2 linked regions of the Homo sapiens genome follow. The protein of the gene in region 1 purifies or fractionates together with the protein of each later gene. This does not show direct contact. Each region holds a gene or a part of one and is shown on either strand. Other genes may lie near its edges.

Region 1 (4,207 bases):
GTCACAGCTCAGGGAATGGGCAAGCAGCACCAATGAGAAACCAGCTGTGTGGTGGGGTTTCCAGAGAAGAGGAAATTCCTTCTTTCCTGGAGAGCGTGCAGCTGTAACTCACAGACGAGACATCCCTGAGCTACCAGCCTGGGGAAAGAGGACATGAGTAAAGCTGTAACCATACCGTGTTACCCATAACAGGCGGTGAGGAGAGTGGGTTTTGGTTGGCACTGTTTGAGCTGCAGTATCAAGTCATGGCAGAGCTAGTGGACAGCTGACCTGGGGGTGGGGGTGAGGAGCAATGGTGGCTTCTGAATTTGAGCCCGTCTGAGCTGGGCAGTTACTGGCAGCTCAGTGTGTGAACCTGCAACCACTCAGGCCTCTGCTGCCCTTCCCTCTTCCTGCCTCACCGTTCCCTGCCCCACGCAGGCTTCCCCACCATCCTCACCCGTGGTCCTGTACTAGTCCTGGCAAAGGTTCCGGTAACTGCAGCAACAGATACCTCCTGCCCCTCCTGCACAGCTGTGGTCGATCGCAGGACAGCCGCAGGTGATGAAAAACCGTGAACCCAGGACGGGCAGGGCGTGAGACCGCCTGCGGGAGGATCAGCGATGTCAAGACGTTACAAACGCACGAACCCCCTCGCCGTCTCCCTGGCGTTTGTGAGGTCCTGTCCAAGCTCCTTCACACGTAGATCACCGGGCCTCGCTCCCCCGACTCCTTCCGTGGGCCTGAACCTTGAGGTACTTAGGCCTCCCCACGCTGGAGGGGCTCTGTAGGGACGTCGAGGCCACGTTTCCAGTCATCCCTCCACCCGTCTCTCCCCAGGGGCTGAGTGTTGAAGGCAAGACTTTGCAGGAGTCTGGCGTTAATACGCATCCCCAAAGTCTGGAGTCGATAAGGACTGAAGACACGACGCCGACGGCGGCCGGGGGACACCGGGCATGCGCGTCTCATCCAGGGGGAGGCCGAGCGGAGCCTCTGACCCTGCCCCGCGCCCAGGGTTCAGCAGTGGGGGTCGTCCCGCCCCAGATCCCACCGAGATGGCCCCCCTTGACCCACAGGCCTTTCGAGACGCGAGCTTCCGCGATCCGGGGTCTCTGTGCGAACGTGGGCATCTTGGAAGAGTCCCAGCCCCGCTCGGGGCGCACAGGCAGGCGCTCTCAGCACGGCACCCGCGCCTCCGCTAGGGACAGACATGCTTCCGGGTCGGCCGGCACCGCGGAGTCCCCTGGGTAACGAGCCCGCCCCACCCGCGCCAGGTTCCGGCGTCGGCGTTAGGCGCGTTGCTGACGGGCAGGTTATGTAGCCAATTGCGGCTAGGCGGCGTCGCGCTGGTCGCGGGCCGAACCAATGGCACGCGACGGGGCGGGGCGGTGGCGGCCGTGGAGCTTCGCGAGGAGCCGCCCTGAGGGAAGAAGCCGAAGGGGAGTCGGCGGCACAAAATGGCGGCGGCGGCGGCGGCGGCTGGTGCTGCAGGGTCGGCAGCTCCCGCGGCAGCGGCCGGCGCCCCGGGATCTGGGGGCGCACCCTCAGGGTCGCAGGGGGTGCTGATCGGGGACAGGCTGTACTCCGGGGTGCTCATCACCTTGGAGAACTGCCTCCTGCCTGACGACAAGCTCCGTTTCACGCCGTCCATGTCGAGCGGCCTCGACACCGACACAGAGACCGACCTCCGCGTGGTGGGCTGCGAGCTCATCCAGGCGGCCGGTATCCTGCTCCGCCTGCCGCAGGTGAGGGCGCGGCCGCGAGCCTCCGGCCCAGGTAACCGCTGGGGCGGCAGCCGCCTTTGTTGGCGGCGAGTCGGGCCCGCACCGCCCCCGCCTAGACCCCGACCCCAGCCCCTGCCCCGACCCCAGCCTCGGCGCCATTCCCTAGCCAGCCCATGCCCCTGACCCGGGGCCTCCCCGCCCGCCAGTGCGCTGGATCCCGAGACGGCGGGACGCGAAGAGCCTTTGTGGACGTGGGAAGCGTTTCAGTGTTTGGTTCTGCGTGGGGAGTCCCACGTTACTCGATGACTTTCGGCCGCGAAGGCTTTGAATGGTGCGTTTGAAAATACGGAAACTTTCTTCTACTCTAGGTGGCCATGGCTACCGGGCAGGTGTTGTTCCAGCGGTTCTTTTATACCAAGTCCTTCGTGAAGCACTCCATGGAGGTAAGGCTTCCTCCTGCACTTCATTCCCAGCGAAGTATGTTGAGGGTAAAACGGTTTGTTACTTTGCCCGGTTACTAAGGGAGTGAGTACTTGCCCCCCAGTCTGAGCTCTGTGCCGGAGGGTTCTGTTTCTTGACTTTTTTTTTCCCCTGGGTGCACCTCCCTTTTGGTCTGAATAGCCCTCAAGCCTTTGGCGGCCGTCAGGACGCCGTGGCTGGGGACAAACATGGGCGTGTTGCAATGCTTCCGCTTCAGCATGTGTCAATGGCCTGTGTCCACCTGGCTTCCAAGATAGAAGAGGCCCCAAGACGCATACGGGACGTCATCAATGTGTTTCACCGCCTTCGACAGCTGAGAGACAAAAAGTGAGTCAGTCAGAGCTGTCTAGTCTATCATAGATGCCTATTTTCTTTATTTCTGATTAAGTTACAGTAAGGCTTGTATAACACAATACAGGCCTGAGGCTCTAAACCTGTGGGATATTCATGAGCGCAGTCTCAAGCTCCACCAACAGAGCCTGCTCAGAGGCATCAGTAGATGCGGTTTAGTAAGGGCAGGGGCTCCAGTGAGGACAGTGCGCTGTGGCGGGTCGCGCTGGGGCTGGCTTCCTGCTTTACCCATGTCAGTGCACGGCCCTGCTGCTGCTTCTGTCCCACAAGTTTCTGAGTGCTCTGGAGCAGGGAATCTTAATCTCAGCACTATTGACATTCAGGCTGGATAATCTTTTTTTTCCTCCTGAGACAGGTTTCCTGTTGTCCAGGGCAGAGTGCGGTGGTATGATCATGGCTCACTACAGCCTCAACCTCCTAGGCTCAAGAGTTTCTCCTGCCTCAGCCTCCTGAGTAGCTGGGACTATAGGAGCACGCCAACCATGCCAGCTAATTTTTATTTTTTATTTGGTAAAGATGGGGTCATGCTGTGTTGCCCAGGCTGGTCTCAAATTCCTGGGCTCCAAGGATTTGCTGGCCTTAGCCTCCCAAAGCACTGGGATTACAGATTTCAGCCACCGCATCTGGCTGGGTAATCTTTAGTTGTAGGGGATTCTCCTGTGTGCTGCAGGATTCAGCAACATCCCTGGTCTCGACTCACTGGATGACAGGAGTACCCCACCTTAGATGTGACAGCCAGAAATTCTCTCATACCAGATGTGGGAGCTCACACCTGTCATCTCAGCACTTGGGAGACTGAAAAAGGAGGTTTGCTTGAGGCCAGGAGATTGAGGCTGCAGTGAGCTGTGATGTCACCACTGCACTCCAGCCTGGACAACAGGGTGAGGCCCTGTTTCCAAAAAAAACGAAAGTCTGTTGATGTTGCTTCATGGCCCTGGAATAGTAAAATTTCTCCAGCAGAGAACCGCTGCCTCTGACCTTAGCCCAGGGTTTATGCACCTGAAGTTAATTGAAGTCCTTTAGAAAACACAGCCTCTGGCCGGGCTGGCCTGTAATCCCAGCACGTTGGGAGGCCTAGGCAGGTGGATCACCTAAGGTCAGGAGTTCGAGACCAGCCTAACCAATATGGTGAAACCCTGTCCCTATTAAGAACACAAAAATTGGCCAGGTGCAGTGGCTCACGCCTGTAATCCCAGCACTTTGGGAGGCCGAGGCGGGTGGATCACGAGGTCAGGAGATCGAGACCATCCTGGCTAACACGGTGAAACCCCGTCTACTAAAAATACAAAAAAGTTAGCCAGGCGTGGTGGCGGGTGCCTGTGGTCCCAGCTACTTGGGAGGCTGAGGCAGGAGAATGGCGTGAACCCGGGAGGTGGAGCTTGCAGTGAGCTGAGATCGGGCCACTGCACTCCAGCCTGGGCGACAGAGCAAGACTCCGTCTCAAAAAAAAATAAAAAAAAAATTAGCCGGGTGTGGTTGCGGGTGCCTGTAATCCCAGCTATTCGGGAGGGTGAGGCAGGAGAATCGCTGGAACCGGGGAGTTAGAGGTGCAGTGAGCTGAGATTGTGCCATTGCACTCCAGCCTGGGCAACAAAAGTGAAACTCTGTCTCAAAAAAAAAAAAAAAAAAAAAAAAAACAGCCTTGCCGAGCGCAGTGGCTCACGCCTATAGTC
Region 2 (3,500 bases), on another chromosome or scaffold:
TTTGTGTTTCTCTTAATATTAGGAACAACAAAACCATATCCTGCTGATATTGTAGTTCAGTTCAAGGATGTATATGCATTGATGGGCCAAAATGTGACCTTAGAATGTTTTGCACTTGGAAAGTAAGTATACTGACACTTTTATTAATATATATAGAAATAGTACCATTTTAGGAAATAAATAATTGTTTAGCTATAAACATAAAGTAATTGTCTTTTAAGTGTGTGAAACTTTAACCCTTGTATCTTCTATTTAAAGTCCTGTTCCGGATATCCGATGGCGGAAGGTTCTAGAACCAATGCCAAGCACTGCTGAGATTAGCACCTCTGGGGCTGTTCTTAAGATCTTCAATATTCAGCTAGAAGATGAAGGCATCTATGAATGTGAGGCTGAGAACATTAGAGGAAAGGATAAACATCAAGCAAGAATTTATGTTCAAGGTAGATACATTATTTTAATTTTGTATAAATTTCATCAGTATCTTATTTAGAGCCATTTCCATACATGAAAAACTACTATATAATGATTAATGGTTTTAAAAACAGTGATGCATGTTACATCATGGAGAAAGATAAAATATTTCTCATATGTCTAATGAAGTCACAACTATGAGTTATAGAAGTTACGAACTTATTACCAGTTGAACCATAGGTAATAGCAATAGATTGATAGAAGTGTTATTGGTAATTTTCAGAATATACACTTAATGTAGTTTGTTTACTCATTTTATCACTGTCTTTTTTCAGTATCTTTTTATTTATAGAAGAAGCTATGTGTTATGACTTAGTTTAAGTCAGTGGTTTGCAAACTTAAGCATGCATCAAAATCACATGGAGGGCTTGTTAAAACAGATTGCTGGGCCAAACTCTCAGAATTTTTCATTCAGAGGTCTGTTAGGGGCTCATGAATTTGTATTTTTAACAAATTCCCAAAGGATGCTGATAATATTGGTCCTGGAGTCACACTTTGAGAACCACTGGTTTAAGAAATCTTTTTTTTTTTTTTTGACAAAATTATCATGGCACAAACCTTTGATTTTCACACATTAAAATAAACTTACATTTGGGAAGACAGATTTTTTTTCAGGCCACACTGGAAACTTTCCAGACTGAAATAATTTCTATAATGTTCCACAACATGAACTTTGCAGGTCACAAGTGAATAAACATCGAGGGCTTCCACAATATTATTCGTTTTTAACTCTGGCTACTGTCCCATTTCACTTTCTCCCGTCTCTCCCAAAAAGGAATAAAAAATTTGACAGATTCACGCATTCTCTCTAAAAGTGTTGTCTCCATCTCCAGTTTTTCTTCTCTCTTAATTGCACTCCAACATGATTTGCATCTCTGCCTCTCCACAGAAACCTTTCTTTTCATGACCACAGACTTCCATATTGCTAAAGCTAATGATCAATTCTCAGTTGTACTTTTTTTTGATCTAACAGCAGTGGTTGCCACAGTTGGTCCCTCCCTTCTTCATGATTCACTTTCTGCACTTCATGTCTGCAACCTACTTTGTTATTAATTTCCTTGTATAATCTTTCATTCTCCATTGCCTTTCAACTCCATACTTTTCTAACATTGGTGTGATCAGGGTTCCATCTGTGAACCCCATCTCCATTTCAGTCACTCCATTTATGATCCCACTCGTGATCATGGCTTTAGACACACTCTGTACCCTGAATGCTCTAACCCAAACATTTACTCTGAACTTCAGACTCGTATGTCCAATGCCACAGTAACATTAATGCAATACATATCAAGTCTGCATGAAATGGCCTCCTAAAAGGAAGAAAATACTAGGTAAGGTCCTTTAAACTTTTGAAATAAATCCACCACTTTCTACTAGGTTTCTAAAGCTTATAGACCTGTTTTTATTCAACATATTAAGAAAACTACACTCCAGGTTCTCAACAGAGTAAAATTTTGAACTGTCTAATATCTAAAGCCTTAGAAGAACCAAGGTGACAGAGCACATATTTACAGAAGGTAATTTAAGAGAAATATTATTTATTCTTTACTAATGCAGCATACTAAGTATTATCTTTAGGTCTGATCACATCACTAGAAGGTTACATAATTAAGCCATATATAGACTGTGTCAAGCCAATTCAATTATTCATTACATGATGTAATAGAAAATGTCTGTGTTGTCTTTGTGAGGCCAAGACAGGAAGGGTGCTGATATTCCTGTATTATGTATTGCTAAGATTGTATACAAAATAAAACCTTTCTCCCTTACAATGAACATATCCACCAATAGTTTAAAAAATATCTCCCTATGTTACAAATATAATGATGAGTGAAAACATGTACTAAATAAGATTATATATGCTTTAAGATATATAGGTGTACATATGTCTACATGTATAATGTATACATTATAATGTATAATGTTGATGGTATTTGGTGAGATAAAAATGTTTTCTAGTTTTTAAATTTCTAGTATTTTATTACTTGTTAAATGTTTTTTATAAGATGCATATATTGCTTTTGCCATAAAATTAACACAAGTTCCCAGTTTCAAAGAAAATTAAATATTATTCTCCACTCAGGATTCTTTCTTCCTACTTCCTTTTTGTATTAATTTATTTATCTGCATTTATTTGGACTAGATAACTGAAATAATCAAAAAGACTGTCAAATTGTTTATTTGCTTGTTCTCTAAAAATATTTTTTCTTTGGAAAATTTTTAGCATTTTCTCATTTTTATGGATGTCTCTTTAGCTATCAAGTAGATCAGACTAAAGAATGAGACTGAGATCAATTTTACCAATGCATGGATTTCACCAATCATGGCTACTGTATATAGTTTCTAATATGGAAAGAGTATATTTAGGTGTCCAAGTCATTTTTCTAGCGCCAAAGTGAGATGTTACCGTGGCCACTAGCTGAAAGTTCCATCAAAATGAAGATAATGTATACCTGAGGGAGTGGGAAAAATATCTGAGTCTTTATCCAAAATGTTAAGAGATGGTATCATATTGAATTGAGATGTAATTCTTTAAAACCTCAATTATCATTTTGACAGACTTGAAAGGTTTATGTTATGAGCAGAAAAAAATCAGTTATTTTAGTAATAATTATAACTCAGCTTTTCAACAAAACATGATTTACAAATGGAAAAATAATGGCTGAGTTATAGTTACCTCCTGCTGTAATAATACAGGATTTGCGTAGGTTAAGCCTATGCAAAGACAAGGCCTATTACTGAGTTCAGGATGCATACACTATCTGATGTATTCTGCAGAATTAGGTTAACTAAATGTAATATTTATACTCTGGAGATTATGATGGATCTTGAGCCCTTCATTTAACATTTACAATGTTCCTTACTTTTTAGCATTCCCTGAGTGGGTAGAACACATCAATGACACAGAGGTGGACATAGGCAGTGATCTCTACTGGCCTTGTGTGGCCACAGGAAAGCCCATCCCTACAATCCGATGGTTGAAAAATGGATATGCGGTATGTATGTTCAAGTGCTTTGCTGTTCCTGAG

Evidence for each region.
Region 2: the proteins of CCNL2 (region 1) and CNTN1 purify together in Homo sapiens (affinity purification with mass spectrometry; 3 studies listed by BioGRID and IntAct, with this or other methods). This does not show direct contact.

What each region holds. Positions count from the first base shown.
Region 1 is NC_000001.11:1,396,536-1,400,742, reverse strand, and holds the start of CCNL2 (cyclin-L2), read left to right. Parts: upstream 1-1,407; 5' UTR 1,408-1,436; coding exon 1,437-1,724; intron 1,725-2,071; coding exon 2,072-2,146; intron 2,147-2,324; coding exon of another isoform or gene 2,325-2,400; coding exon 2,401-2,510; intron 2,511-4,207. UniProt on the Homo sapiens protein: Involved in pre-mRNA splicing. May induce cell death, possibly by acting on the transcription and RNA processing of apoptosis-related factors.
Region 2 is NC_000012.12:40,933,439-40,936,938, forward strand, and holds part of CNTN1 (contactin-1 isoform 1 precursor), read left to right. Parts: intron 1-22; coding exon 23-122; intron 123-258; coding exon 259-440; intron 441-3,342; coding exon 3,343-3,467; intron 3,468-3,500. UniProt on the Homo sapiens protein: Contactins mediate cell surface interactions during nervous system development.